Regions from separate parts of the Homo sapiens genome. Here region 1 is linked to region 2. Evidence: fine-mapped expression QTL. A gene starts in region 2. The other region holds a variant in brackets. All regions are shown on one strand. Distances are between the middles of the regions. Region 1 overlaps ZNF668 (zinc finger protein 668). Region 2 holds the start of VKORC1 (vitamin K epoxide reductase complex subunit 1).

The links. PIP is the estimated chance that this variant, and not a neighbour inherited with it, causes the effect.
Region 1: its variant is fine-mapped to the expression of VKORC1 in whole blood (INTERVAL, PIP above 0.99).

What each region holds. Positions count from the first base shown.
Region 1 is chr16:31,048,445-31,064,254 of GRCh38, reverse strand. It overlaps ZNF668 (zinc finger protein 668), which reads left to right. Exons shown (of 3, transcript NM_024706.5): 2 at 1-442; 3 at 1,975-3,408. The coding sequence ends at 3,187. Among named protein-coding and RNA genes, the nearest start is that of ZNF668, 18 kb to the left of the region's middle. RefSeq lists an enhancer at 1-605. The variant G/A (reference allele first, on the strand shown) is at 8,074.
Region 2 is chr16:31,087,257-31,103,066 of GRCh38, reverse strand. It overlaps VKORC1 (vitamin K epoxide reductase complex subunit 1), which reads left to right and starts at 8,270. Exons shown (of 3, transcript NM_024006.6): 1 at 8,270-8,510; 2 at 9,646-9,755; 3 at 11,725-12,213. The coding sequence starts at 8,338. The coding sequence ends at 11,933. LOC124903680 (zinc finger protein ENSP00000375192-like) reads left to right here and starts at 7,062. Exons shown (of 1, transcript XM_047435012.1): 1 at 7,062-8,183. The coding sequence starts at 7,689. The coding sequence ends at 8,183. PRSS53 (serine protease 53) reads left to right here and starts at 14,124. Exons shown (of 11, transcript NM_001039503.3): 1 at 14,124-14,315; 2 at 15,241-15,261; 3 at 15,368-15,530. The coding sequence starts at 14,258. RefSeq lists enhancers at 7,102-7,281, 7,797-7,846, 7,897-7,946, 7,977-8,156, 9,337-10,045 and 1 more.

The DNA of each region.
Region 1 (15,810 bases), 39 kb after region 2:
CCAGTGGGGAGAAGGTGTCAGGCTCCGCGGCCAAGCCTAGGCCCTATGCGTGTCCGCTATGCCCCAAGGCCTACAAGACGGCACCCGAGCTGCGCAGCCACGGGCGCAGCCACACGGGGGAGAAGCCCTTTCCGTGCCCCGAGTGCGGCCGCCGCTTCATGCAGCCCGTGTGCCTGCGCGTGCACCTGGCCTCGCACGCTGGCGAACTGCCCTTCCGCTGTGCGCACTGCCCGAAGGCCTATGGCGCGCTCTCCAAGCTCAAGATCCACCAGCGTGGCCACACAGGCGAGCGGCCTTACGCCTGCGCCGACTGCGGCAAGAGCTTTGCTGACCCTTCAGTGTTCCGCAAGCACCGGCGTACTCACGCTGGCCTGCGGCCCTACAGCTGTGAGCGTTGCGGCAAAGCCTATGCGGAGCTCAAGGACCTCCGCAACCATGAGCGGTGAGGGTGCCTTCCGGGGCAGGGCGCCTTCCGGGGCAGGGCGACAGCGTTGCTGCAGCCAATGGGGCCTGGGTTTGAGTCTCAGGGTAAAGTGAGCCAATGGGAAGGTGGGCATGGCAGATCCAAGGGGAGGGGCTAGGCATGTGGGAGAAATTGGTGCCCCTGATTGGGCAGAGGTGGCAACCACCTTGAGGTTGATCTCTGAGAATGGGATTGGGTCAGATTGGCCTCCGTTGTAGGCCAGCTGGAAAGGGGGCGGGGTTTGGAGTTGGGCAGTTCTGAGGGTCTTTTGTGGAGACCAGGAGGTGTGAGTGGGGCCTGGTTTGTCTAGGTCATTTTTTTTTTTCTTTTTCTCAGCCTCTACATTAATGACATGTTTCTAGGCTGGGCACAATAGCTCACGCCTATAATTCCAGCACTTTGGGAGGCTGAGGCAGGAGGATTGCTTGAGCCCAAGAGTTCAAGACCAGCCTGGGCAACACAGCAAGCCTCGTCTCTATAAAAATAAAAAAATTACCCGAGCGTGGGGATGTACACTTCTAGTCCCGGGTACTTGGGAGGATAAGGTGGGAGGATGGCCTGAGCCTGGGAGGTCGAGGCTGCAGTGAGCTATGGTCAGGCCACTGCATTCCAGCCTGGGGAACAGGAAAAAAAAGGCGGAGGACACGTATCTTGGTTTTCTGTTTTGTTTTGTTTTGTTTTTGTTTGTTTGTTTTTTGAGACGGAGTTTTGATCTTGTTGCCCAGGCTAGAGTGCAATGGCGCGATCTCGGCTCACCGCAACCTCCGCCTCCCGGGTTCAAGCGATTCTCCTGCCTCAGCCTTCCGAGTAGCTGGGATTACAGGCATGCGCCACCATGCCCGGCTAATTTTGTATTTTTAGTAGAGACGGGGTTTCTCCGTTTTGGTCACACTGGTCTTGAACTCCTGACCTCAGGTGATCCGCCCGCCTCGGCCTCCCAAAGTGCTGGGATTACAGGCGTGAGCCACCGCGCCTGGCCATGTCTTGGTCTTTTTTTTTTTTCTTTTTCTTTTTTTTTTTTTTTTTTTGAGACGGAGTCTCGCTCTGCCGCCCAGGCTGGAGTGCAGTGGCAAGATCTCGGCTCACTGCAAGCTCCGCCTCCCGGGTTCACGCCATTCTCCTGCCTCAGCCTCCCGAGTAGCTGGGACTACATGCACCCACCACCACGCCTGGCTAATTTTTTATAGTTTTAGTAGAGACGGGGTTTCACCGTGTTAGCCGGGATGGTCTCGATCTCCTGACCTCGGCCTCCCAAAGTGCTGGAATTACAGGCGTGAGCCACCGCGCCCGGCCCATATCTTGGTCTTTAATGTGCAGAGACAGGTCTTTGGAATAGAGACACCCAGCCAGCCTGAAGGCTTCTTCCTCTGGGGTGCAGCCATGTGGCTCTTAGGGGATTAAGCCTAGGCCCCCACGAACGTTTGGGGAGCCCCTAAAGTACAGCCCAGACAGGCAGTGGGGTCACGTTATGGGTCTGTCGCCTTCATGCCAAGTCCTCCACACCCCCGCAGGTCCCACACCGGCGAGCGCCCCTTCCTCTGCTCCGAGTGCGGGAAGAGCTTCTCCCGCTCATCCTCGCTCACGTGCCACCAGCGCATCCACGCGGCACAGAAGCCCTACCGCTGCCCGGCCTGCGGCAAGGGCTTCACGCAGCTCAGTTCCTACCAGAGCCACGAGCGCACGCACTCGGGGGAGAAGCCCTTCCTGTGCCCGCGCTGCGGCCGCATGTTCTCCGACCCCTCGAGCTTCCGTCGCCACCAGCGCGCCCATGAAGGGGTGAAGCCATACCACTGCGAGAAGTGCGGCAAGGACTTCCGGCAGCCGGCGGACCTGGCCATGCACCGGCGTGTGCACACAGGCGACCGGCCGTTCAAGTGCCTGCAATGTGACAAGACGTTCGTGGCGTCCTGGGACCTCAAGCGGCACGCGCTGGTGCACTCTGGCCAGCGGCCCTTCCGCTGTGAGGAGTGCGGGCGAGCCTTCGCCGAGCGTGCCAGCCTCACGAAGCATAGCCGGGTGCACTCGGGGGAGCGCCCCTTCCACTGTAACGCATGTGGGAAATCCTTTGTGGTGTCGTCGAGCCTGAGGAAGCACGAGCGGACCCATCGAAGCAGTGAGGCCGCGGGTGTGCCCCCTGCACAGGAGCTGGTGGTGGGGTTGGCGCTGCCTGTGGGCGTGGCAGGTGAGAGTTCAGCCGCCCCGGCAGCAGGGGCGGGGCTGGGGGACCCTCCAGCAGGGCTGCTAGGGCTGCCCCCGGAGTCAGGTGGTGTGATGGCCACACAGTGGCAGGTGGTGGGCATGACGGTGGAGCATGTGGAATGCCAAGATGCTGGTGTCCGGGAGGCTCCTGGTCCCTTGGAAGGGGCAGGCGAGGCGGGGGGTGAGGAGGCTGACGAGAAGCCCCCCCAGTTTGTGTGCCGAGAGTGCAAGGAGACCTTCTCCACAATGACGCTGCTGCGTCGGCACGAGCGCTCACACCCGGAGCTCCGGCCCTTCCCCTGCACCCAGTGCGGCAAGAGCTTCTCTGACCGGGCTGGGCTGCGCAAACACAGCCGCACTCACAGCTCAGTGCGCCCCTACACCTGCCCCCATTGTCCCAAGGCCTTCTTGAGTGCCAGCGACTTGCGCAAGCATGAACGCACCCACCCTGTGCCCATGGGGACCCCCACACCCCTGGAGCCCCTGGTGGCTTTGCTAGGAATGCCTGAAGAGGGGCCGGCCTGAAGCCCATGACCCCCCAGCACCACACTCCGGGAGCCCAGCCCCCATCGGGGGCTTCCTGTACCTCCTTTTGCCTGGCTCTGCTCTTTAGACTCCAGATCCCTACCCCTCAGCAACTAGCTCCCCTGTCGGCCAGCTAAGAGAGCTGGGACAGTGGAGGCTGGCAGAAGCTGAGACGTGACTGTCTAGGAGTAACACTCATTAAAGCTTTCATTTTGGCACCAGGTCATCTTCTGTGTTCTGGTTGGGAGTGAATGGGTGGGAGTTTGGGCATCAGGTAAGGTTCAGTGGAGACCCCTGGATCCACAGATTTGAAACTAGAAGGGTCTTTGGATGCAGTTTCCCAAAGTATGTTTCAGGATGTCTAGTGACAAAAGGTTTCATGGGCAGGTAAGAAAGGAAATTCCCTGTGCCCTTCTTGGGATTCTTGGTGATCAAAACTTGGTGATCAAAAGTGGGCTGGGGTGGCCCTGGAGGAGCAGTCCCTCTGGCAGCTGAAGCTGGCATCTCCAGGCCCACTGCCCCTTTGTTGTGAGGGCCTGGGACTTAGGAATCTGCCCACAAAAGGGGTATTGTTCATTAAAATCTACCCATTTCTTCATAGAATATACGTCTTCAATTGCCTGGTGGTGGTGGCTCACACCTGTAATCCCAGCACTTTGGGAGGCTGAGGCAGGCAGATCACCTGAGGTCAACAGTTCTGAGACCAGCCTAGTCAACATGGTGAAACCCTGTCTCTATTAAAATTACAAAAATTAGCCAGATGTGGTGGTGCATGCCATAGTCCCAGCTACTCGGGAGGCTGAGGCAGGAGAATCACTTGAACCCGGGAGGTGGAGGTTGCAGTGAGCCAAGATCCCGCCACTGCACTCCAGCCTGGGCTACAGAGCAAAACTCTGCCTCAAAAAAAAAAAAAAAAATTATCACAAGCATTGATAAGTCCAGCAGTGAACACATCTGTTTAGCTTTGTTTAGCCCATACTTATTTGATTATGGAAACCTTTTACTGAGTAGTTCTACTTTTATCCTTTCATAGATAATAAACTGCAGATAAAAATTAGTTATCTTTCCTGTATACTAAAGTAACAAATTAGAAAATATACTTGGTGGAAAAAGGATTCCCAATTCACAACAAAATCCATGGACCATGAAGGAATAAACCTCACAAGAAATGTGCAAAACCTGTATGAAAAGAAATGATAGCTCCAACCTGAAGGATATGAAATAAGACCTAAGTAAATGGAGACATATACCATATACCTGAATGGAAAGACTGATTATTAAAAGATGTCCACCAGGCCCGCTGGCTTACAGCTTTAATTCCAGCATTTTGGGAGGCTGAGGTGGGAGGATCAACTGACGTCAGGAGTTCGAGACCAGCCTGGCCAACATGGTGAAGCCCTATCTCTACTGAAAAATACAAAAATTAGTCGGGTATAGTGGTGGTTGCCTCTAATCTCAGCTACTCGGGAGACTGAGGCAGGAGAATCGGCTTGAACCCGGGAGGCGGAGGTTTCAGTGAGCCGAGATTGTGCCACTGCACTCCAGCCTGGGCGACAGAGTGAGACTCCACCTCAAAAAATAAATAAATAAATAAATAAATAAATAATGTCGAATGGGCTGGGTACAGTGGCTCATGCCTGTAATCCCAGCACTTTGGGAGGCCGAGGCAGGCAGATCACCTCAGGTCAGGAGTTCAAGACCAGCCTGGCCAACCATAGCCAACATGGTGAAACCCCATCTCTACTAAAAATACAAAAATTAGCCAGGCATGGTGGCGGGTGCCTGTAATCCCAGCTACTTGGGAGGCTGAGGGACAAGAATCCCTTGAACCTGGAAGGTGGAGGTTGCAGTGAGCCGAGATGGCGCCCACTGCACCCTAGTCTGGGCGACAGACCAAGACTCCATTTTAAAAAAAAAAGTCGATTCTCCCTAGTTTAGTCCTTAAATTCATTGCCATCCTAAAGGATTATTTATTTATTTATTTAGAGATAGAGTCTTGCTCTATCACCCAGGCTGGAATGAAGTGGTGCAATCTCAGCTCACTGCAACCTCTGCCTCCCGGGTTCAAGCTATTTATTTTTGAGACTGAGTTTTGCTCTTGTTTCCCAGGCTAGAGTGCAATGGCACGATCTCAGCTCACTGCAACCTCCACCTCCCAAGTTCAAGCAATTCTCTTGCGTCAGCCTCCTGAGTAGCTGGGAGGGACTACAAGTGCCTGTCACCACGCCCGGCTAATTTCTTGTATTATTTTTTCTTTTTCTTTTTTATTTTTTAGATGGAGTTTCACTCTTGTTGCCCAGACTGGAGTACAATGCCACGATCTCAGCTCACTGCAACCTCTGCCTCCTGGGTTCAAGCGATTCTCCTGCCTCAGCCTCCCGAGTAGCTGGAACTACAGGTGCATGTCACTATGCCCGGCTAAGTTTTGTATTTTTAGTAGAGACGGGGTTTCACCATGTTGGCCAGGCTTGTCTCGAACTCCTGACCTCAGGTGATCCACCCGCCTTGGCCTCCGAAAGTGCTGGGATTACAGGCGTGACCCACCACGCCCAGCCAAGATTTTTAAACATAACGTGAAAATTCAAACTTCAGATACAACACAATATAATTCAAAGTTCACATATAATACAATATCATTTATTTTTTCTTTTGGGATAAGGTCTCATTCTGTCAGGCTAGAGTGTGGTGGTGTGATCATGGCTCACTGCAGCTCCGACTTCCCAGGCTCTACAAGCAATCCTCCTCCCTCAGCCTTGAGAGTAGCTGGGACTACAGGCACACACCAGCACAGGTGGCAAATTTTTCTATTTTTGTGCAGAGACAGGGTTTCACCATGTTGCCCAGAATGGTCTCAAACTCCTAAGCTCAACCAATCCTCCTGCTTTGGCTTCCCAAAGTGCTGGGATTACAGGCATGAGCCACCGAGTTGGGCCAATATGGTTTTTTAAAACAGGCCGGGCACGATGGCTCACACCTGTAATCCCAGCACTTTGGGAGGCCGAGGTGGGTGGATCATCTGAGGTCAGGAGTTTCAGAACAGCCTGGCCAACATGGCGAAACCCTGTCCCTACTGAAAAAAAAAAAATAACAAAAATTAGCCAGGCATGGTGGCACGTACCTGTAGTCCCAGCTACTCGGGAGGCTGAGGCGGGAGAATCGCTTGAACCCGGGAGGCAGAGGTTGCAGTGAGCCGAGATCGCACCACTACACTCCAGCCAGGGTGACAGAGCGAGACAACATCTCAAAAAAAGAAAACAAAAACAAAAACCAGATAATGTGTTCGACATTCTTCATGTTTTATTTATTTTGAGACAGGGTCTCGCTCCATTGCCTGGGCTGGAGTACAGTGGCATGATCACAGCTCACTGCAGCCTTGAACTCCTGGGCTCGAGTGATCCTCCCTCCTCAGCCTCCTGAGGAGCTGGTCTACTGGTGCACCCAGCTAAATTTTTTAACTTTTTGTAGAGGCAGGGAGTTGCTACATTGCTACGCTGGTCTTCAGCTCCTGGGCTCAAGTGATCCTCCCACCTCAGTCTCCCAAAGTGCTGGGATTACAGGCGTGAGCCACTAAACCCAGCCTGTTTGACATAATAGATAATCAAACACCAGGCTGGGTGCAGTGGCTCACGCCTGTAATCCCAGCACTTTGGGAGGCTGAGGCGGGCAGATCATGAGGTCAGGAGATCGAGACCATCCTGGCTAACATGGTGAAACCCCGTCTCTACTAAAAATACAAAAAATTAGCCGGGCGTGGTGGTGGGTGCCTGTAGTCCCAGCTACTTGGGAGGCTGAGGCAGGAGAATGGGATGAACCCAGGAGGCAGAGCTTGCAGTGAGCTAAGATTGCACCACTGCACTCCAGCCTGGGTGACAGAGCGAGACTCTATCTCAAAAAAAAAAAAAAAAAAAAAAAAAAGATAATCAAACACCAAAGTACTAGGGGAAAAAACACATTGTTTGAGCCCAGGAGCCGGAGGTTGCAGTGAGCCGAGATTGTGCCACTGCACTCCAGCCTGGGTGACAGAGCAAGACTCCGTCTAAAAAAAAAAATTAGCCTGGCATGGCAGCACACACTTGAGAGGCTGAGGCAGGAGAATTGGTTGAACCAGGGAGGCGGAGGTTGCAGTGCGCCGAGATCGTGAAACTGCACTCCAGCCTGGGTGACAGAGAGGGAGACTCTGTCTAAAAAAAAAAAAAAAAAATTATAGTTACCTTTACCTTTAACTGCTCTATGGATCACAACCTGGACATTACACAACATTAAGTGTTCCCTTTGAGATATTCCTTCAGACTCTGGGAGGCCAAAGCAGGTGGATCACTTGAGGTCAGAAGTTCAAGACAGCCTGACCAACATGGTGAAACCCCGTCTCTACTAAAAAAATACAAAATTAGCCGGGCGTGGTGACGCATTCCTGTAATCCCAGTTACTTGGGAGGCTGAGGCAGGAGAATCATTCAAATCCAGGAGGCGAATGTTGCAGTGAGCCAAGATTGCACCATTGCACTCCAGCCTGATCAACATGGTGAAACCCCGTCTCCACTGAAAATACAAAAATTAAGGCTGGGCACCGTGGCTCACTCCTGTGATCCCAGCACTTTGGGAGGCCGAGGGTGGGGCGGGGGCCGATCACGAAGTCAAGAGATCGAGACCACCCTGGCCAACATGGTGAAACCCTGTCTCTACTAAAAATACAAAAATTAGCTGGGTGTGGTGGCACGCACCTCTAGTCCCAGCTACTTGGGAGGCTGAGGCAGGAGAATTGCTTGAACCCGGGAGGTGGAGGTTGCAGTGAGCCAAGATCATGCCACTGCACCTCTAGCCTGCGACCCCCTGCACCTCTAGCCTGGCGACAGAGAGAGACTCCATCTCAAAAAAAAAAAAAAAAAA[G/A]AAGAAGAAGAAGAAAAGAAAAGAGATTCCTTCAGGTCCTCATGGAACTACTGACTCAGCTGACCTGAAGGACCCCACAAGGAGCTAATTCCCCCAAAAACGCAGCTTCTACATCCTTCCCCCAATCAATCAATGACCCAGTTGCCCAAAACCTTACCCTCCACAATCCCCTACCCTCCACAGTCCCCTTAGAAACCCTCTCCCAGAATTGCTCGGGGAGATAGATTTGAGGGCCTCTTCCCATCTCTGCACTAGGTGCCCTGCACCAGTAACTCTCTCTGCTGCATCCCTATTGTCTTGGTGTAATGGAGCTGTAGCTGCACAGCAGGCAAAGGAACCTGCAGGTCCCCTAACAATGAAAGGTAAAAAGGAGTCACCAATCCAAAGCAACTGCAAATCCAGCTGGGAAATTCCTTTAGGCTTCCAGGCCTGGAAATGGTTTTCTATGGCTCTTTTCTGCCCTCTTGGCTCTCAGCTCTGCCCTCTGTGTCAGCCATCTTTTCTTTCTTTTTTTTTTTTTGAGATGGAGTCTCGCTCTGTCGTCCAGGCTGGAGTGCAGTGGCGTGATCTCAGCTCACTGCAAGCTCTGCCTCCCGGGTTCACGCCATTCTCCTGCCTCAGCCTCCTTAGTAGCTGGGACTGCAGGCGCCCGCCACCACACCCGGCTAATTTTTTCTATTTTTTAGTAGAGACGGGGTTTCACCGTGTTAGCCAGGATGGTCTTGATCTCCTGACCTCGTGATCTGCCACATCAGCCTCCCATGTGTCAGTCATCTTTTCTAAGAAGCCATTCCTAACCATCCAACAGAAAAGCTGTCTCCAACCCCCTATCACTTTTTGTCACATCACACTGTTTAATTTCTTTTCTTTTCTTTTTTTTTTTTTTTTTGAGACAGAGTCTTGCTCTGTTGCCCAGGCTGGAGTGCAGTGGTGTGATCTCGGCTCACTGCAAGCTCCGCCTCCCAGGTTCATGCCATTCTCCTGCCTCAGCCTCCCAAGTAGCTGGGACTACAGGCACCCGCCACCACACCCAGCTAATTTTTTGTATTTTTAGTAGAGACAGGGTTTCACCATGTTGGCCAGGCTGGTCTCGATTTCTTGACCTCGTGATCTGCCCTCCTTGGCCTCCCAAAGTGCTGGGATTTTTTTTTTTTTTTTTGAGACGGAGTTTTGCTCTTGTTGCCTAGGCTGGAGTGCAGTGGCACAATCTCAGCTCATGGCAACCTCCACCCCTGGGTCCAAGCGATTCTCCAGCCAATTTCTTTCTTTCTTTTTTTAGATGGATTCCCACTCTGTCGTCAGGCTGGAGTGCAGTGGCGTGATCTCGGCTCACTGCAACCTCCACCTCCCGGGTTCAAGGCATTCTCCTGCCTCAGCCTCCCGAGTAGCTGGGACTACAGGCACGCGCCACCACACCCAGCTAATTTTCGTATTTTTAGTAGAGACAGGGTTTCACCATGTTGGCCAGGCTGGTCTCGATTTCTTGACCTCGTGATCTGCCCTCCTTGGCCTCCCAAAGTGCTGGGATTACAGGCATGAGCCACTGCACTTGGCCTAATTGCTTTTTTTTTAAGACAGGGTCTCACTCTGTCTCCTAGCCTGTAGTGCAGTGGCATGATCTTGGCTCACTGCAACCTCCACCTCCCCACTCAAGCAATTCTTATTCTTGTGCCTCAGCCTCCCGAGTAGCCGGGACTGCAGGCATGCACCACCACACCTGGATAATTTTTTTGTATTTTTAGTAGAGACAGGGTTTTACCATGTTGGCCAGGCTGGTCTCAAACTCCTGACCTCAAATGATCCACCCGCCTCAGCCTCCCAAAGTGTTGTGATTACAGGTGTGAGCAACTGTGCCTGGCCTTAATTGTTTTGATAATACACGTTATAGCTTAGAATAGCTTAGCTCTTGGCCGGGCATGGTGGCTCACGCCTATAATCCCAGCACTTTGGGAGGCCGAGGCGGGTGGATCATGAGGTCAGGAGATCGAGACCATCCTGGCTAACACGGTGAAACCCCGTCTCTACTAAAAATACAAAAAATTAGCTGGGCGTGGTGGCGGGCGCCTGTAGTCCCAGCTACTCAGGAGGCTGAGGCAGGAGAATGGCGTGAACCCAGGAGGTGGGGCTTGCAGTGAACCGAGATTGCGCCACTGCACTCCAGCCTGGGCGACAGAGGGAGACTCCGTCTCAAAAAAAAAAAAAAAAAAAAAAAGAATAGCTTAGCTATTTACTTGTCCTCTTCACTAGAATATAAACTCCATGAAAGCAGAGGCCTTGTCTGTATTTTCACCTCTATTTCTCTAGCACCTAACACAATGCCTGGCACACAGGTCTTGCTCAATACATATTTTATGAATAAATGAGTGAAGGAGTTAAGTGTGGAATGGCATGGTACAGTAGGCTGAATAGAGAACCCCCCTAAATATGTCTACGTCCTATTCCTGGAATCTGTGAATGTCACGTTATATGGTGAAAGGGATTTTGAAAATGTGAAGGATCCTGAGATGGAGAGATTATTCAGGATTATCCAAGAGGGCGGTATGTAATCATGAACATCCTCCTAAGAGGCACACAGGAGGAATAAGTCTCAGAGGAGAAAGTGGAGTGATGATGAAGGCAGAGATGGATTCATGTGCTTTCCAATGGAGGATGGACCCACCAGCCAAGGAATACAGGTAGCCTTTCTAAACTGAAAGAGGGTGGGGTGCAACGGCTCACACCTGTAATCCCAGACCTTTGGGAGGCTGAGGCAGGAGGATCTCCTGAATCCAGGACTTTGAGACCAGTCTGGGCAATGGAGTGAGACCTCATCTCTACAAAAAATAAACAAAATTAGCAGGGCGTGGTGGCGTGAGCCTGTGGTCCCAGCTACTGAGAAGGCTAACACGGGAGGATCGCCTGAGCCTGGGAGATGGAGGCTGCAGTGAGCTATGATTGCACCACTGCACCCCAGCCTGGGTAACAGAGCGAGACCCTGTCTCAAAAAAAAAAAAAAAAAAAAGAGCTGAAGAAGGCAAGGAAACATTGTCCACCAGAGCCACCAACAAAAACCAGCCCTGCTGACACCAGACATTGGCTCAATGAAACTGATTTTGAACTTCTGACTTCCAGAACTGTAAGAAAGTAAATGTGTGTGGTTTTAAACCACTGAGTGTATGATAATTGGTTAAATCAGTAACAGAAAATTGATACCGTTTGAGGCCAAGGCAGTGGCTCACGCCTATAATCCCAGCACTTTTGGAGGCTGAGGTGGGTGGATCACCTGAGGGCAGGAGTTCAAGACCAGCCTGGCCAACATGGGGAAATCCTGTCTCTACTAAAAATACAAAAATTAGCTGGGCATGGTGGAGCACGCCTGTAATCCCAGCTACTCAGGAGGCTGAGGCAGGAGAATTGCTTGAACCTGGGAGGCAGAGGTTGCAGTGAGCCGAGATGGCAACACTGCACTCCAGCCTAGGGGATAGAGGGAGACTGTCGAAAGAAAGGAACAAAGGAAGGAAGGAATGAAGGAAGGAAGGAAGGAAGGAGGGAGGGAGGGAGGGAGGGAGGGAGGAAGGAAGGAAAGGAAGGAAAAATTGATACAGTTGGGATGGGTTAACATTCAATGTGTGTGGTGGCAACAGCTTATGGTCCCCCAGTATCCATTCTACCCTTCTCCCAGAGTAACTGAACTTTTATCTGGGCAAAAAGCTGCTCAGGGTAGAGATTCTATTTCTCAGCAACACTTTCATCGGGATGTAGCCATATGACTACATCCTGGCTATGGGGATTAGAGCAAAAATGATCTGTACTTCTGAATCATGCTCTTTAGGGCAAAGGGCAAACCATCACCCCTCAGAAGGGCCAGACTGTGGAAGTGGTGGTGAATCATATTGGATCATGTGGGTGAGGGCAACGCCCTAGGGATGGAACAGCAACAAGATAAAAAAGACCTGGAGGGGCAGAGTGGCTCATGCCTGTCATCCCAGAGCTTTGGGAGGGTGAAGCAGGAGGATCACTTGAGGCCAGGAGTTTGAGACCAGCCTGGGCAACATAGTAACACCCCACCTCTACAAAAAAGAAAAAGAAAAATTAGCCAGGCGTGGTGGCATGTGCTTGTAGTCCCTGCTACTTTGTTGGGGCTAAGGCAGGAGAATCGCTGGAGCCCAGGATTTTGAGGTTACAGTGAATTATGATTGCACCACTGCACTCCAGCCTGAATGGTGCAGAAAATTGTCTCTATTAATGGTAGTAATGAATCAATGAATGAATGAATGATACAAAAAATCTGGCTCCTAATGATTTCATGGAAAGATCCATCATACTAACTTGGACTTTTATAGAAGAGAGAAATAAACTTCTATCTTATTTAAGCCACAGTTAATTTGGGTCTCTATTATATGCAACAATACACATACACAAACTAATTCAGAATTTTCACTTACTAACCATTATGATTCTTTTTTGTTTTGTTTTGTTTTTGAGACGGAGTTTTACTCTTGTCGCCCAGGCTGGAGTGCAGTGACACAATCTCGGTTCACTGCAACCTCTGCCTCCAGGGTTCAAACAATTCTTCTGCCTCAGCCTCCCAAGTAGCTGGGATTTCAGGCATCCACCACCACGCCTGGCTAATTTTTTTTTTTTTTTTAGTAGATATGGGTTTCACCATGTTGATTAGGTTGGTCTTGAACTAACCTCAGGTGATCCGCCCCCTCGGCTTCCCAAACTGCTGGGATTACAGGTGTAAGGCACCATGCCTGGCCAAACATTATGTTCTTTTCTCTTTTTTTTTTTTTTTTTTTTTTCAGAGTCTCACTCTCTAGCCCAGGTTAGAGTGCAGTGGCGTGATCTGGGCTCACTGCAACCTCCACCTCCCAGGTTCAAGCGATTCTCCTGCCTCAGCCTCCCGAGTAGGTGGGACTACAGGTGTGCACCATGAGGTGTAGCTAATTTTTGTATTTTTAGTAGAGATGGGGTTTCATGGTGTTGACCAGGCTGGTCTCTCAAGTGATCCACCTGCCTCAGCCACCCAAAGTGTTGGGATTACAGGTGTGAACCACCATGCCCAGCTTTTTTATTTCTTTTTCCCCCCCTTTTTAAAAATAGAGCTAGGATTTTGCCATGTTTCCTAGACTGGTCTCAAACTCCTGGGCTCAAGCAATCCACCCGCCTCTGCCTCCCAAAGTGCTGGGATTACAGGCGTGAGCCCCCGTGCCCGGCCTGGACAGCTTCTTTTTAATGCATCTCAGGATGCATGTGAGATTGATATTTACTAGGCACCATGTTGATGCTAGAAGGTCTGGGCCCCACCAGATGTTTTTACAGTTCCTGTGAGCAGCTGCTACTAGTTGCCAAATGCCAGCAAGAATCAAGAAGACTCGGCTTGGCTGGGCACGGTGGTTCATGCCTGTAATCCCAGCACTTTAGAAGGCCAAAGCTGGCGGATGGCCTGAGGTCAGGAGTTCCAGACCTACTCAGGAGGCTGAAGCACAATATTTGCTTAAATCCAGAAGGCAGAGGTTGCATTGATCCGAGATCGCACCACTGCACTCCAGCCTGGTGACAGAGCAAGACTCCATCTCAAAAAAAAAAAAAAAAAGAAAGAAAAAAAGAAATAGGCTCACTGGTTAGGACCTGAGGGTGAACAGCTCTGAAGAGGAGCAAAGGCGGAGACTTCCTAACATCAGCATAGCTCATTATGGTGTGTCAGTTGTCATGGTGATGGGAAAGGATACCTGAGCAGGGTATCCCACAGGGAGGCTGCATCTATCAGCTGGGATCCAGTTACGCTGCAGTAATAGCAGCCCCCAAATCTTAGGGGCTCACAACACCATGTTGATTTCTCACTCATATCCATGTCCTCCATGGGACCACTCTGTTCTATGCTATCTTCATTCTAGAGCCCTGTCTGAAGGAAAAGTCTCAAGCTGGAACTTTCCGTCTCCAGACACCGAAGAGAGGAAAGGTGGCAGACCCCATGACGGCTTTTAAAGCTTCCTCGTGGAAGTGGCACATGTCATTTCCACTCAAAGTCCATGGTCTAAAGCAAGCCACATAGCCATACCTGATGTCAGTGAACTGGGGACAAAAAACCATTCTATGTAGCAGGTCCCCAAAGAGAGGGCCAGTGAATACATGTGATTTTTTTTTGTTGGTTGTTTTTTTAGAGTCAGTGTTTTGTTGTGTTGCCCAGGCTGGAGTGCATAGGTGCATGGTGCAATCATAACTCACTGCAGCCTCTACCTCCTGAGCTTAAGTGATCCTCCCACCTCAGCCTCCTAAGTAGCTAGGACTACAGGCAAGCACCACCACGCCCAGCTAATTTTTTTTTATTGTTTTATTTTTTGTAGAGATAGGGTCTCACTATGTTGCCCATGCTGGTCTCAAACTCCTGGCCTCAAGTGATCCTCCTGCTTCACCCTCCCAAAGCACTGGGATTATAGGCGTGAGCCACCACACACATCCCAGTGAATGTTTTTGAACAATTATAAAATCTTCCCCCGTCTGCCCTCTTCCTTACAAATACTGCCTTTGCATTTTCTTCCATATGCAAAATAAATGCATCCCCTTCCCAAGGGAGACCACCTAAGTGACCCATCTGACATGGAATCAGCCTCAAGCCCAGGATCTCTAATAGTCTCTTCTATATCAGGTCCAGATGTGGCTTCTCTTGATTCAGAGACCTATGAGCTACAAAATAAGAGAGAGACAGAGACAAGTTACCTGTGCCCCATTTCTACACACACACACACACGAACACATCCAACATATAAAGCAGAACAAGGACAGGAGAACAGCAGAGCACACTCCCGTTCAGAAGGAAGGACAGGGCCCGGTGCGGTGGCTCATGCCTGTAATCCCAGCACTTTGGGAGGCCGAGGCCGGTGGATCACCTGAGGTCAGGAGTTTGAGACCACCCTGGCCAACACGGTGAAAACCTGTCTCTACTAAAAATACAAAAATTAGCCAGGCGCAGTGGCTCACGTCTGTAATTCCAGCACTTTGGGAGGCCGAGGGGGGCAGATCACAAGGTCAGGAGTTCAAGACCAGCCAGGCCAACATAGTGAAACCCGGTCTCTACTAAAAATACAAAAAGTTAGCCGGGCGTGGTGGCGGGCCCCTGTAGTCCCAGCTACTCAGGAGGCTGAGACAGGAGAATCGCTTGAACCCAGGAGGCAGAGGTTGCAGTGAGCCGAGATCGTGCCATTCCACTCCAGCCTGGGCGACAGTGCAAGACTCCGTCTCAAAAACAAAAACAAAAAACCCCAAAACCAAAAATTAGCCAGGCGTGGTGGCATGCACCTGTAGTCCCAGCTACTCGGGAGGCTGAGGCAAGAGAATCGCTTGAACCCAGGAGGCAGAGGTTGCAGTGAGCCGAGATAGTGCCATTGCACTACAACATGGGTGACAAAAGTGAAACTCTGTCTCAAAAAAAAAAAAAAAAAAAAAAAAGGAAGGAAGGACAGGAGACACACAGCAGGCTCTGGGCCCCACTAAGTCTAAAGTGCTGCTGGGCAGATGTTGAGAAGAACCCCCACTTTTCCCTGGGAGTGGGAAGAGTTCCCTAGTTCATTCTTCACCATGTTCTTGGCTCTGCCCTTAGAGTAAACCACCCTTTTCCACTTATTCTCCTTGGCCACAATTGAGAGGACACTGGTGGTTATGTCTTTCTGAAGTAGAGTAGCTTTCTCAGTCTCCTTCATGCCCATAGAAATTTGGAGACCCATGGCCAGGTGCGGTGGCTCACGCCTATAACCC
Region 2 (15,810 bases):
CTCCCATCTCAGCTTCCCAAAGTGTTGGGATTACAGGCGTGAGCCACTGGGCCCAACCAACTTCTCTCTTTTTTTTTTTTTTTTTTTTTGAGACAGAGTCTTGCACTGTAACCCAGGCCAGAGTGTAGTGGCACAATCTCGGCTCACTGCAACTTCTGCCTCCCAGCTTCAAGCAATTCTCGTGCCTTGGCCTCCCAAGTAGCTGGGATTACAGGTGCATACCACCATGCCCAGCTAATTTTTGTATTTTTGTAGAGATAGGGTTTCACCATGTTGGCCAGGCTGGCTTCAAACTCCTGACCTCAGGTGATCCATCTGCCTCGTCTTCCCAAAGTGCTGGGATTACAGGCATGAACAACAGAGACAAGCAGGGCCTGGCCAACTTCTTACCATATAACTTTGACACTTCTTGTATCAAGAGGTGAGGGAGTCTATGTTCCCTCCCCTTGGAACTGGGAAGGCTTGTGATTACAGTGGAACAGATGCTATATGACTTCTGAGTTTAGATCATAAAATATGTAGCTTCCACCTGGCTTTCTGGAGCACATGTGCTAGTCCTGAGCTGCCAGGTGGGCAGTCTGACTGCCCTATATTATTATTATTTTATTTTTAAATTGAGACAGAGTCTTGCTCTGTGACCCAGGCTGGAGTGCAGTGGTGCGATCTTGGCTCACTGCAGCCTCCACCTCCCAGGTTCAAGGGATTCTCCTGCTTCAGCCTCCCAAGTAGCTGGGATTACAGGCATGCACCACCATACCCGGATAATTTTTACTAGAGAAGGGTTTCTCCATGTTGGCCAGGCTGGTGCCCTGTACGAATTATTTATTGCTGTGTAACAAATTACCTCCAAAACATAGCACCATGCTGGAGTGCAATGGCACGATCTTGGCTCACTGCAACCTCTGCCTCCCGGGTTCAAGCGATTCTCCTGCCTCAGCCTCCCTAGTAGCTGGGATTACAGGCGCCCACCACCATGCCCAGCTAATTTTTTGTATTTTTAGTAGAGACGGGGTTTCACTATGTTGGCCAGGCTGGTCTCCATCTCCTGACCACAGGTGATCCACCCACCTCAGCCTCCCAAAGTGCTGGGATTACAGGCGTGAGCCACACCATACCCAGCTCAAACATAACATCTTAAAAACATTTTTTTAAATAGAGACAAGGTCTCACTATGTTGCCCAGGCTGTTCTTGAACTTGAACTCCTGAGCTCAAGTGATCCTCCCACTTCGGCCTTCCAAAGTGCTGGGATTACAGGTGTGAACCACTGCGCCTAGCCAATATCTTAAAACAATAAACACTGGCCGGGTGTGGTGACTCACGCCTGTAATCCCAGCATTTTGGGAGGCGGAGGCGGGCGGATCACGAGGTCAGGAGATTGAGACCATCCTGGCTAACACGGTGAAACCCTGTCTCTACTGAAAATACAAAAAAATTAACTAGGCGTGGTGGTGGGTGCCTGTAGTCCCAGCTACTCAGGAGGCTGATTCAGGAGAATGGTGTGAACCTGAGAGGCGGAGCTTGCAGTGAGCCAAGATTGTGCCACTGTGCTCCAGCCTGGGCAATAGAGCGAGACTCTTTCTCAAAAAAAAAAAAAAAAAAAAAAAACAATAAACACTTATCACACACAGTTTCCTTGGGTTAGGAATCTAGGGGGTTCTGGCTCAGGGTCTCTCATGAAGTGCAGTCAAAATGTTGGCCAATGCTACCGTCATCTGAAGGCGTGACTGTTTTACAGAATCTGATTCCAAGGTAGCTCCCTCACATGCCCAGCAGGTTACTGCTGGTTGTTGACAGAAGGCCCGTCATGCTCAGGGTTGGGGTCCAGCCCCAGCTGAGGTGTGAGAGGAAGCAGTGGACGTGAGGCAGGGAGCTAGAAGAACACTCGAGAGACAGCAGGTAAATGAGACATGGCTTTATTCAGCAGCTCTCTCATCATCAACATCTTACTCTCGCACTGTCTGCTCTGTCTCAGCTGCTTACTCCGGCAGCTCCCACACACACACAGCTGTGTGGCCAGCTCTCCCTTCAGGGTCAGCAGCTTCACTCTTTCTTTTCTTTTCTTTTTTCTTTTTTTCCTGAGATGGAGTCTCGCGCTGTTGCCCAGGCTGGAGTGCAGTGGTGTGATCTCGGCTCACTGCAACCTCTGCCTCCTGGGTTCAAGCAATTCTCCTGCCTCAGCCTCCTGAGTAGCTGGGATTACAGGCATGCACCACCATGGCCAGCTAATTTTTGTATTTTTAGTTGAGAAGGGGTTTCACCATGTTGACCAGGCTGGTCTCAAACTCCTAACCTTGTGATCCACCTGCCTTGGCCTCCCAAAGTGCTGGGATTATGGGCATGAGCCACCACACCCCACAGCCTTACTCTTTCTCCCTCTGGGCATGAGCTAGCTGAGCTGTGTCTTGGCTTCCCCGAGATGGACAGCTCTGGCTTTCTCTCTTTCTCTGGGTACAAGCACCTGCACAAGAGCCATGTCCCATGTCAAGCCATGTTGGGCCGAGCCCTGTGCACAGTGTCAGCAGGGCAATTATACCTTTTACAGACAACAGTGGCTCAGAGCCAAGTGATGAGCCTTCCCATGTTATGGCTACACGGCTGTGATAACAAGTGGAGCTATATGCCTGCACTCTAAACTCACTGAGTCACTCTGGATGTTTACTTTGGCCTATGCCCACTTGACTGCAGCACACCCACGTTTCTTACAGGGCCTCAGTTCCTCACTAAGGAGACCTCTCTCCCTAGGGTTACTTGAGTGCTTTCATATCATGGTAGCTGGCTTTGTCTAGAATGAGTGATCTACAAAGGAGCAAGATGGAAGCCACAATATCTTCATGATTTAGCCTCTAAAGTCACACACTGTCATTTCTGCATTATCCCAATGGGCCAGTTCAGCCCCTTTCAATGTGAGAAGAGACTTCACAATGGTATCAATACCAGGAAGCAGGAATCACTGAGGACCATTTTGGAAGCTGACTATTAAAGCCTTAAGGCTGCCATGCTGTGAGGAAGCCCAAGCTAGCCCATGCAGAGGACAACATAGATAGGTTCGGAGACTACTCAGAGAAAGGGAGAGAGAATGCTAGGTTATCTTTCAGCTGTTTTAGCTGCTTATTGTTCCAGCTTTAGCCACCATCTGACTGCAATTGTATGAGCCAGAAATAGCCAGGTAAAATTGTCTTCCCAAATTCCTAGTGCACAAAAACTGTCAGAGGCTGGGGGCAGTGGCTCACTCCTGTAATCCCAGCAGCACTTTGGGAAGCCAGGGTGGGAGAACTGCTTGAGCCCAGGAGTTAGAGGCAACATAACAACAACTCATCTCTAATGAAAAAAAAAAAAAAAGAAAGAAAAAGGCCAGGCACAGTGGCTCACGCCTGTAATCCCAGCACTTTAGGAAGCCAAGGAGGGCGGATCATGAGGTCAGGAGTTTGAGACCAGCCTGGCCAATATGGTGAAACCCCGTCTCTACTAAAAACACAAAAATCAGCCACGCATAGTGGCTGGTGCCTGTAATCACAGCTACTCAGGAGGCTAAGGCAGGAGAATCACTTGAATCCGGGAGGCAGAGGTTGCAGTGAGCCGAGATTGCACCACTGCATTTCAGCCTGGGCAGCAGAGTGGGACTGTCTCACATTAATTAATTAATTGATTAAATGCTAGAAGAAAATATGGTCAAAATCTTTTATAACTCTTGGAGTGAGGAAGGCAATCTCGGCTCACTACAACTTCCACCTCCCGGGTTCAAATGATTCTCCTGCCTCAGCCTCCTGAGTAGCTGGGATTACAGGCACCCACCACCATGCCCGGCTAATTTTTGTATTTTTAGTAGAGACGAGGTTTCGCCATGTTGGCCAAGCTTGTCTTAAACTCCTGACCTCAGGTGATCCACCCACCTCAGCCTCCCAAATTGCTGGGATTACAGGCATGAGCCACCATGCCCCGCCTAATTTTAAAAATGTTTATAAAGACAGAGTCTTACCACGTTGTCCAGACCTGTCTCAAACTCCTGGGCTCAAGTCATTGTCTTGTCTCAGCCTCCCAAAGTTCTGGGACTACAGGTGTGCACCACCACACCTGGCTAATTTTGTTTATTTTTTATAGAGTGAGGGTCTCCCTGTGTTGTCCAGGGTGTCTCAAACTCCTGGGCTCAAGTGGTCCTCCTGCCTCAGCCTCCCAAAGTGCTGGGATTATAGGCATAAGCCACTGCACCTGGCCCCAGTGTGTGTCTTCTGAGGCTAAGTCATAAAGAGATTGCGGCTTCTATTTTGCTTCCTCTTAGATCACTCATTCTGGGGGAAACCAACAATAAATAACAGGAACACACCAGGAGATCAGAGAAAGCTGAGATACAGGCCTAATGCCCAGTCCTCTGTATTCATTTCTAATTGCTGCTGTAACAAGTTACTGCACATTTAATGATGTAAAACAACACAAATTTATCTTACAGTTCTGTAGCTTAGAAGTCTGACAGAGTCTCACTGGGCTGAAATCAAGATGTTGATAGTTCCTTCCCGGTGACTCTAGAGTGAGAATCCAGTTCTTTACCCTTTCTTGCCTTTAGAGGCCACCCGTATTTATTAGCTCACAATCCCCTTCCTCCATCTTCAAACCAGAAACATTGCAGCTCTCTGTGTCTTTTTTCTTTACTCACATCTCCCTCTGACTTTCTTCTGCCATCCTCCTTCATTTTTTAAGGACCCCTGTGGGCCAGGCATGGTGGCTTATGCCTGTAATCCCAGCACTTTGAGAGGCGGAGGCAGGCGGGTCACCTGAGGTCAGGAGTTCCAGACCAGCCTGGCCAACATGGCAAAACCCCATCTCCACTGAAAATACAAAAATTGGGCCAGGCACGGCGGCTCACACCCGTAATCCCCATACTTTGAGAGGCTGAGGCAGGTGGATCACTTGAGGTCAGGAGTTCAAGACCAGCCTGGCCAACATGGTGAAATCCCGTCTCTACTAAAAAAAAAAAAAATTACAATAATTAGTCAGGCGTGGTGGCCAGCACCTATAATCCCAGCTACTTGGGAGGTTGAGGCACAAGAATTGCTTGAACCCGAGAGGGGGAGGTTGCAGTGAGCTGAGATTGCACCACCGTACTCCAGCCTGGATGACAGAGCAAGACTCTGTCTCAAAATAAAAATTAAGATAAATAATAAAAAATAAATAAAAATCAGCAAATTAGGCCAGGTGTGGTGGTGGCTCATGCCTGTACTCCCAGCACTTTGAGGTGGGAAGGTTGCTTGAAACCAGAAGTTTAGACCAGCCTGGGAAACAAAGTGAGACCCCATCTCTACAAAAATAAAAATAAATTAGCCAGGTGTGGTGGGACGTACTTGTACTCCTAGCTACTAGGGAGGCTGAGGTGCAAGAATCGCTTGAACCTGGGAGACGGAGGTTGCAGTGAGTTATGACAGTGCCACTACACTCCAGCCTGGGTGTCAAGGGTCTTTGAAAAAATAAACAAAATAGGCTGGGCGTGGTGGCTTACACTTGTAATCCCAGCACTTTGGGAGGCTGAGGCAGGCAGATCACAAAGTCAGGAGTTCGAGACCAGCCTGGCCAACACAGTGAAACCCCGTCTCTACTAAAAATACAAAAATTAGCCAGGCATGGTTGCACGCGCCTGTAGTCCCAACTGCTCGGGAGGCTGAGGCAGGAGAATGGCTTGAACCTGGGGGGGGGCGGAAGTTATAATGAGCCAAGATTGTGCCACTGCACTCCAGCCTAGGCAACAGAGCGAGACTCCGTCTCAAAAATAAAAATAAAAATAAATCAATAGAGCCTGGTATGATGGCTCACGCCTATAATCCCAGCACTTTGGGAGGCCCAGGTGGGTGGATCATCTGAGGTCAGGAGTTTGAGACCAGCCTGACCAACATGGAGAAACCCCATCTCTACTAAAAATACAAAAAATTAGCCAGGCGTGGTGGCACATGCCTATAATCCCAGCTACTCAGGAGCCTGAGGCAGGAGAATCGCTTTAACCGGGGAGGTGGAGGTTGCGGTGAGTCGAGATAGCACCATTGCATTCTAGCCTGGGCAACAAGAGCAAAACTCCATCTCAAAAATAAATAAATAAATAGATAGATAGGCTGGGCACGGTGGCTCACGCCTGTAATCCCAGCACTTTGGGAGGCCGAGGTGGGCGGATCACCTGAGGTCAGGAGTTCAAGACCAGCCTGGCCAATATAGCGAAACCCTGTCTCTACTAAAAATTTAAAAAATTAGCCAGGCATGATGGCGGGTGCCTGTAATCCCAGCTACTCGGGAGGCTGAGGCAGGAGAATCTCTCGAACCTGGCAGGCGGAGGTTGCAGTGAGCCGAGATCACACCATTGCACTCCAGTTGGGCAACAAGAGCGAAACTCCACCTCAAAAACAAAATAAAATAAAATAAAATCAGGAGATTGGTCAGCTTAATTCCATCTGCAACCTTAATTCCCTTTTGGCCATTTAACCTATCATATTCACAAGTTCCAGGGATTCATGCAGGGACATCTTTGGTGACCATTATTCTGTCTACCACACTCTCTAGAAGAGAGTAGATGTGAGAAACAGCATCTGGAGAGGGAGGAGCCAGCAGGAGAGGGAAATATCACAGACGCCAGAGGAAGAGAGTTCCCAGAAGGGTAGGTGCAACAGTAAGGGATCCCTCTGGGAAGTCAAGCAAGAGAAGACCTGAAAAACAACCATTGGCCGGGTGCGGTGGCTCACGCCTATAATCCTAGCATTTTGGGAGGCCGAGGTGGGTGGATCACTTGAGGTCAGGAGTTTAAGACAAGCCTGGCCAACATGGTGAAACCCTGTCTCTACTAAAAATACAAAAATTAGCCAGACATGGTGGCAGGCACCTGTAGTCCAAACTACTTGGGAGGCTGAGGCACGAGAACCACTTGAACCCTGGAGGCGGAAGTTGCAGTGAGCCGAGATGGCACCGCTGCACTCCAGCCTGGGCGACAGAGTGAGACTCCGTCTCAAAATAAGTAAATAAATAAATAAATAACCATTGGGTCTAGCGTCTTGGTGACACCAGCCACTAGGTGTCAGGGCAATGCTGGAGGCAGCAGCTAGTTTATGGCGTGGGCAGCAAGGAAGAAGTGAGGAAGTAGAGACTGGGAGTGTAGAATCTTTCCAAAAACTTGAATGTGGAGGGGTAGATGGGATAATGCCGGGAGAGGAGGCTGGTGAAGGACCTCTTAGTGAAGGGAGATTTGTTGCTGTTTCTGAGATGGGAAAGAGAAACAAGTTGCAGTGTAGATGGGGAGGATGGAGAGGTTGAAGGTGTAGGAGAGATGGGTCACCATCAGATGGGACGTCTGTGAAGGAGAGACCTCATCTGGCCCACAGCTTGGAAAGGAGAGACTGACTGTTGAGTTGATGCAAGCTCAGGTGTTGCCAGGCGGGCGCCATGATAGTAGAGAGGTTAGGATACTGTCAAGGGTGTGTGTGGCCAAAGGAGTGGTTCTGTGAATGTATGGGAGAAAGGGAGACCGACCACCAGGAAGCACTGGTGAGGCAGGACCCGGGAGGATGGGAGGCTGCAGCCCGAATGGTGCCTGAAATAGTTTCAGGGGAAATGCTTGGTTCCCGAATCGGATCGCCGTATTCGCTGGATCCCCTGATCCGCTGGTCTCTAGGTCCCGGATGCTGCAATTCTTACAACAGGACTTGGCATAGGGTAAGCGCAAATGCTGTTAACCACACTAACACACTTTTTTTTTTCTTTTTTTTTTTTGAGACAGAGTCTCACTCTGTCGGCCTGGCTGGAGTGCAGTGGCACGATCTCGGCTCACTGCAACCTCCGGCTCCCCGGCTCAAGCAATTCTCCTGCCTCAGCCTCCCGAGTAGCTGGGATTACAGGCATGTGCCACCACGCCCGGCTAATTTTTGTATTTTTAGTTGAGATGGGGTTTCACCATGTTGGCGAGGCTGGTCTTGAACTCCTGACCTCAGGTAATCCGCCAGCCTCGGCCTCCCAAAGTGCTGGGATTACAAGCGTGAGCCACCGTGCCCGGCCAACAGTTTTTAAATCTGTGGAGACTTCATTTCCCTTGATGCCTTGCAGCCGCGCCGACTACAACTCCCATCATGCCTGGCAGCCGCTGGGGCCGCGATTCCGCACGTCCCTTACCCGCTTCACTAGTCCCGGCATTCTTCGCTGTTTTCCTAACTCGCCCGCTTGACTAGCGCCCTGGAACAGCCATTTGGGTCGTGGAGTGCGAGCACGGCCGGCCAATCGCCGAGTCAGAGGGCCAGGAGGGGCGCGGCCATTCGCCGCCCGGCCCCTGCTCCGTGGCTGGTTTTCTCCGCGGGCGCCTCGGGCGGAACCTGGAGATAATGGGCAGCACCTGGGGGAGCCCTGGCTGGGTGCGGCTCGCTCTTTGCCTGACGGGCTTAGTGCTCTCGCTCTACGCGCTGCACGTGAAGGCGGCGCGCGCCCGGGACCGGGATTACCGCGCGCTCTGCGACGTGGGCACCGCCATCAGCTGTTCGCGCGTCTTCTCCTCCAGGTGTGCACGGGAGTGGGAGGCGTGGGGCCTCGGAGCAGGGCGGCCAGGATGCCAGATGATTATTCTGGAGTCTGGGATCGGTGTGCCCGGGGAACGGACACGGGGCTGGACTGCTCGCGGGGTCGTTGCACAGGGGCTGAGCTACCCAGCGATACTGGTGTTCGAAATAAGAGTGCGAGGCAAGGGACCAGACAGTGCTGGGGACTGGGATTATTCCGGGGACTCGCACGTGAATTGGATGCCAAGGAATAACGGTGACCAGGAAAGGCGGGGAGGCAGGATGGCGGTAGAGATTGACGATGGTCTCAAGGACGGCGCGCAGGTGAAGGGGGGTGTTGGCGATGGCTGCGCCCAGGAACAAGGTGGCCCGGTCTGGCTGTGCGTGATGGCCAGGCGTTAGCATAATGACGGAATACAGAGGAGGCGAGTGAGTGGCCAGGGAGCTGGAGATTCTGGGGTCCAGGGCAAAGATAATCTGCCCCCGACTCCCAGTCTCTGATGCAAAACCGAGTGAACCGTTATACCAGCCTTGCCATTTTAAGAATTACTTAAGGGCCGGGCGCGGTGGCCCACTCCTGTAATCCCAGCACTTTGGGAGGCCGAGGCGGATGGATCACTTGAAGTCAGGAGTTGACCAGCCTGGCCAACATGGTGAAAGCCTGTCTCTACCAAAAATAGAAAAATTAATCGGGCGCTATGGCGGGTGCCTTAATCCCAGCTACTCGGGGGGGCTAAGGCAGGAGAATCGCTTGAACCCGGGAGGCGGAGGTTTCAGTGAGCCGAGATCGCGCCACTGCACTCCAGCCTGGGCCAGAGTGAGACTCCGTCTCAAAAAAAAAAAAAAAAAAAAAAAAAAAGAGACTTACTTAAGGTCTAAGATGAAAAGCAGGGCCTACGGAGTAGCCACGTCCGGGCCTGGTCTGGGGAGAGGGGAGGATAGGGTCAGTGACATGGAATCCTGACGTGGCCAAAGGTGCCCGGTGCCAGGAGATCATCGACCCTTGGACTAGGATGGGAGGTCGGGGAACAGAGGATAGCCCAGGTGGCTTCTTGGAAATCACCTTTCTCGGGCAGGGTCCAAGGCACTGGGTTGACAGTCCTAACCTGGTTCCACCCCACCCCACCCCTCTGCCAGGTGGGGCAGGGGTTTCGGGCTGGTGGAGCATGTGCTGGGACAGGACAGCATCCTCAATCAATCCAACAGCATATTCGGTTGCATCTTCTACACACTACAGCTATTGTTAGGTGAGTGGCTCCGCCCCCTCCCTGCCCGCCCCGCCCCGCCCCTCATCCCCCTTGGTCAGCTCAGCCCCACTCCATGCAATCTTGGTGATCCACACAGCTGACAGCCAGCTAGCTGCTCATCACGGAGCGTCCTGCGGGTGGGGATGTGGGGAGGTAACTAACAGGAGTCTTTTAATTGGTTTAAGTACTGTTAGAGGCTGAAGGGCCCTTAAAGACATCCTAGGTCCCCAGGTTTTTTGTTTGTTGTTGTTTTGAGACAGGGTCTGGCTCTGTTGCCCAAAGTGAGGTCTAGGATGCCCTTAGTGTGCACTGGCGTGATCTCAGTTCATGGCAACCTCTGCCTCCCTGCCCAAGGGATCCTCCCACCTTAGCCTCCCAAGCAGCTGGAATCACAGGCGTGCACCACTATGCCCAGCTAATTTTTGTTTTTGTTTTTTTTTGGTAGAGATGGTGTCTCGCCATGTTGCCCAGGCTGGTCTCAAGCAATCTGTCTGCCTCAGCCTCCCAAAGTGCTGGGGGGATTACAGGCGTGAGCTACCATGCCCCACCAACACCCCAGTTTTGTGGAAAAGATGCCGAAATTCCTTTTTAAGGAGAAGCTGAGCATGAGCTATCTTTTGTCTCATTTAGTGCTCAGCAGGAAAATTTGTATCTAGTCCCATAAGAACAGAGAGAGGAACCAAGGGAGTGGAAGACGATGGCGCCCCAGGCCTTGCTGATGCCATATGCCGGAGATGAGACTATCCATTACCACCCTTCCCAGCAGGCTCCCACGCTCCCTTTGAGTCACCCTTCCCAGCTCCAGAGAAGGCATCACTGAGGGAGGCCCAGCACCATGGTCCTGGCTGACACATGGTTCAGACTTGGCCGATTTATTTAAGAAATTTTATTGCTCAGAACTTTCCCTCCCTGGGCAATGGCAAGAGCTTCAGAGACCAGTCCCTTGGAGGGGACCTGTTGAAGCCTTCTTTTTTTTTTTTTTTAAGAAATAATCTTGCTCTGTTGCCCAGGCTGGAGTGCAGTGGCACAATCATAGCTCACTGTAACCTGGCTCAAGCGATCCTCCTGAGTAGCTAGGACTATAGGCATGTCACTGCACCCAGCTAATTTTTTTTTTTTTTTTTTTTTTTTTTTTGCGACATAGTCTCGCTCTGTCACCAGGCTGGAGTGCAGTGGCACGATCTTGGCTCACTGCAACCTCTGCCTCCCGGGTTCAAGCAATTTTCCTGCCTCAGCCTCCTGAGTAGCTGGGACTACAGGCGCGTGTCACCACGCCCAGCTAATTTTTGTATTTTTAGTGGAGACAGGGTTTCACCATGTTGGCTAGGATGGTCTCAATCTCTTGACCTGGTGATCCATCCGCCTTGGCCTCCCAAAGTGCTAGGATTACAGGCGTGAGTCAACCTCACCGGGCATTTTTTTTTTGAGACGAAGTCTTGCTCTTGCTGCCCAAGCTGGAATGTGGTGGCATGATCTCGGCTCACTGCAACCTCCACCTCCTAGGTTCAAGCGATTCTCCACCTTAGCCTCCCCAGCAGCTGGGATTACAGGTGCCCATCAACACACCCGGCTAATTTTTGTATTTTTATTAGAGATGGGGTTTTGCCATGTTGGCCAGGCTGCTCTCGAACTCCTAACCTCAGGTGATCCACCCCCATTGGCCTCCCAAAATACTGGGATTACAGGCATGAGCCACCGTGCCCAGCTGAATTTCTAAATTTTTGATAGAGATCGGGTCTTTCTATGTTGCCCAAGCTGGTCTTGAACTCCTAGCCTAAAGCAGTCTTCCCACCTCGGCCTCCCAGAGTGTTTGGAATACGTGCGTAAGCCACCACATCTGCCCTGGAGCCTCTTGTTTTAGAGACCCTTCCCAGCAGCTCCTGGCATCTAGGTAGTGCAGTGACATCATGGAGTGTTCGGGAGGTGGCCAGTGCCTGAAGCCCACACCGGACCCTCTTCTGCCTTGCAGGTTGCCTGCGGACACGCTGGGCCTCTGTCCTGATGCTGCTGAGCTCCCTGGTGTCTCTCGCTGGTTCTGTCTACCTGGCCTGGATCCTGTTCTTCGTGCTCTATGATTTCTGCATTGTTTGTATCACCACCTATGCTATCAACGTGAGCCTGATGTGGCTCAGTTTCCGGAAGGTCCAAGAACCCCAGGGCAAGGCTAAGAGGCACTGAGCCCTCAACCCAAGCCAGGCTGACCTCATCTGCTTTGCTTTGGCATGTGAGCCTTGCCTAAGGGGGCATATCTGGGTCCCTAGAAGGCCCTAGATGTGGGGCTTCTAGATTACCCCCTCCTCCTGCCATACCCGCACATGACAATGGACCAAATGTGCCACACGCTCGCTCTTTTTTACACCCAGTGCCTCTGACTCTGTCCCCATGGGCTGGTCTCCAAAGCTCTTTCCATTGCCCAGGGAGGGAAGGTTCTGAGCAATAAAGTTTCTTAGATCAATCAGCCAAGTCTGAACCATGTGTCTGCCATGGACTGTGGTGCTGGGCCTCCCTCGGTGTTGCCTTCTCTGGAGCTGGGAAGGGTGAGTCAGAGGGAGAGTGGAGGGCCTGCTGGGAAGGGTGGTTATGGGTAGTCTCATCTCCAGTGTGTGGAGTCAGCAAGGCCTGGGGCACCATTGGCCCCCACCCCCAGGAAACAGGCTGGCAGCTCGCTCCTGCTGCCCACAGGAGCCAGGCCTCCTCTCCTGGGAAGGCTGAGCACACACCTGGAAGGGCAGGCTGCCCTTCTGGTTCTGTAAATGCTTGCTGGGAAGTTCTTCCTTGAGTTTAACTTTAACCCCTCCAGTTGCCTTATCGACCATTCCAAGCCAGTATTGGTAGCCTTGGAGGGTCAGGGCCAGGTTGTGAAGGTTTTTGTTTTGCCTATTATGCCCTGACCACTTACCTACATGCCAAGCACTGTTTAAGAACTTGTGTTGGCAGGGTGCAGTGGCTCACACCTGTAATCCCTGTACTTTGGGAGGCCAAGGCAGGAGGATCACTTGAGGCCAGGAGTTCCAGACCAGCCTGGGCAAAATAGTGAGACCCCTGTCTCTACAAAAAAAAAAAAAAAAAAAAATTAGCCAGGCATGGTGGTGTATGTACCTATAGTCCCAACTAATCGGGAAGCTGGCGGGAAGACTGCTTGAGCCCAGAAGGTTGAGGCTGCAGTGAGCCATGATCACTGCACTCCAGCCTGAGCAACAGAGCAAGACCGTCTCCAAAAAAAAACAAAAAACAAAAAAAAACTTGTGTTAACGTGTTAAACTCGTTTAATCTTTACAGTGATTTATGAGGTGGGTACTATTATTATCCCTATCTTGATGATAGGGACAGAGTGGCTAATTAGTATGCCTGAGATCACACAGCTACTGCAGGAGGCTCTCAGGATTTGAATCCACCTGGTCCATCTGGCTCCAGCATCTATATGCTTTTTTTTTTGTTGGTTTGTTTTTGAGACGGACTTTCGCTCTTGTTGTCCAGGCTGGAGTGCAATGGCACAATTTCGGCTCACCACAACCTCCACCTCCCAGGTTCAAGTGATTCTCCTGCCTCAGCCTCCCGAGTAGCTGGGATTACAGGCATGCGCCACCAGGCCTGGCTAATTTTGTATTTTTAGTAGAGACAGTGTTTCTCTATGTTGGTCAGGCTGGTCTCGCACTCCCGACCTCAGGTGATCTGCCTGCTTTGGCCTCCCAAAGTGCTGGGATTACAGGCGTGAGCCACCATGCCCGGCCAGCATCTATAATATATGCTAAACCTTACCCACAGCTGCCTCTGTCTTGGGGTCAGGGTTCTTGAATGGTCTGGGCCAGCCTGAGTTAGGAGTGGGAAGAGGAAGAGGAGGCACGCGCCAAAGTGTTCTTCCCGCCTGACCGAGTCCTCTGCGCCTATGAGGAAGGTGGGCACCGCTGTCACCCTGTTTCCCAGGAAGCCAGCAGGCCCAGGGAGATACTGGGATTTGCCAAAGGCTCACAGCGAGCAAGCAGCAGTGGGTGCTGGCTCCTCACCACTCAGCCTGGCACACACTGTCTCTGAGCAGACCTGGGAGAAGGCATGTGAAACCCACCTAGCCCTGGCTGGAAGAGAAGTGGGGGAGTGGAAATGAAAAGTGGGGACTGGGAGGAGCTGCCCACGTGCCCTCCATGGTTCCAGGATGGCACTTTCATGCTGGGAGTGAGCTTGCCCTGTGCCAGGCTGTCATTGAGACGTTTTCCATTCAACAACTGTTTCTCAGACAAGGCACAGGCAGGTTAGCTCTCCCAGGCCACTCAAGTAGTAAGGAAACAGATTTAAACCCAGACAATTTGGCTCCACGGCTAAGGCCCAGAGAGGGGTGGTGACAAGCCTAGGGTCACACAGCCACAGCCCCAGAGCTAGGAACTGCTGGCTAGGGCAAGCAGACAGCTGAATCCTAGCCAACTGGAGGTGGAGCAGAGGTGGAGCCAGGGAGACCCAGGTGGCCTCTCTCAGAGTGGAGCACAGGTGGCAGAGTGGCCCGGGGCAGCATGAAGTGGTGCTGGGGCCCAGTGCTGCTCATCGCGGGTGCCACAGTCCTCATGGAGGGTAAGCCGCCATGTGCTGGGGTATGGGTGTGGCCTGGTGGGGGCTCAGGGGCCATCTCTGCCCCAGCAGTCCCTGCTTCTTGGTGGGGGGACCGCCTGTGGGCGACAGTCCACCAGTGGGGATGTAACTCCGTAGGACTCTGTGGGGTGGTATATGTGGCCACCTGTGTCAACATGGATGAGATTTTCTCGGGCCAGCTGCAGTTTGCGTTGGCGGGGCCTGTGGTCTTGTGTGTGTGTGAGGTGCTGCCTGCGTGTGTCCTGTGCCTGCCTCCCCCTCGACTTCCACAATGACGTCAGGCAAACTCTGGGCTCCTCTGGCCTCAGTTTCCCTTTCTTTTCATCCATCCTCTGGGCAGCCTGGCTCAGCTGTCTCATGGGGTGCCTGTGTGCCTGTGAGGGGCGGTGGGCAGGGGCCCTCTCTCTGGCGGGCTCTCAGACAGTTTCTGGGAAGGTGGGGAAGACTGAGTCTCTAGACCAGGGTGAGGTAAGTCTCCATTTCTTGGGGCCCTCCCCACTTGGAAATGATGCAGGCCTCTAATCCTTCCTCTTAGGCCTCTGCTGCTAAGAGGACAATTAAGCTAATGCTCTCTACACACACAGGCCGCCTGGCTGACTCAGTGGCGGGGGCAGGAGTTGGGGGTTCTGAAGCCTGGAGGAGGGCTGGCCTACTCCCAAGCTGAACCCCAAGCCCCAGAGTGCTGAGCACAGCTGAAGGAGAATTAATTACTGAGTGTGCACACTGAATAGGTTCCAATAAAAGCTGTCTCGGCCTCATATAAATATTTTCATTCTGGGAGGGGCTGGTAAGGTAATCAGAGTCACAGGCAAGGACCCTGGGCCCGCCCCCCAGCCCATCCCCTCTCCTCCCCAAAGCTAGGCAGGCCTGGAGTCCCTGCATCTTACCTGTGTCTCTCTCTTCCCAGGTCTTCAAGCCGCTCAGCGTGGTAAGGTCTGGGGACACGGGGCCTAGGTCTTACTTGGGTCTGGGTTGGGACTGGGGTGAGGTCAGGACAGGTATCTGCTGTCAGTGTGACTAACTCCTTTCCACAGCCTGTGGACAGCGTGGCCCCGGCCCCCCCAAGCCTCAGGAGGGCAACACAGTCCCTGGCGAGTGGCCCTGGCAGGCCAGTGTGAGGAGGCAAGGAGCCCACATCTGCAGCGGCTCCCTGGTGGCAGACACCTGGGTCCTCACTGCTGCCCACTGCTTTGAAAAGTAAGTCATGGCTGGGGTCAGGCAGGGTCTCCGGCTCTGGGGAGTGGACAATTTGTCTCAAGCCCCACAAGGCTAGTCCCTGCCTCTAGAGTAATAATAAAGAACCATTTACTGAGAATCTGCCATGTACTGGGTACATATTGTCAAGTTAATTGTAACAACCACCTTTCATGGTAGAAGATTTACAAATCAGAAAACTCAGGTTGCAAGGGAATGACCTCGCTTAAAGTCACAGACTGAGGCCGGGCACAGTAGCTCACGCTTGTAATCCCAGCCCTTT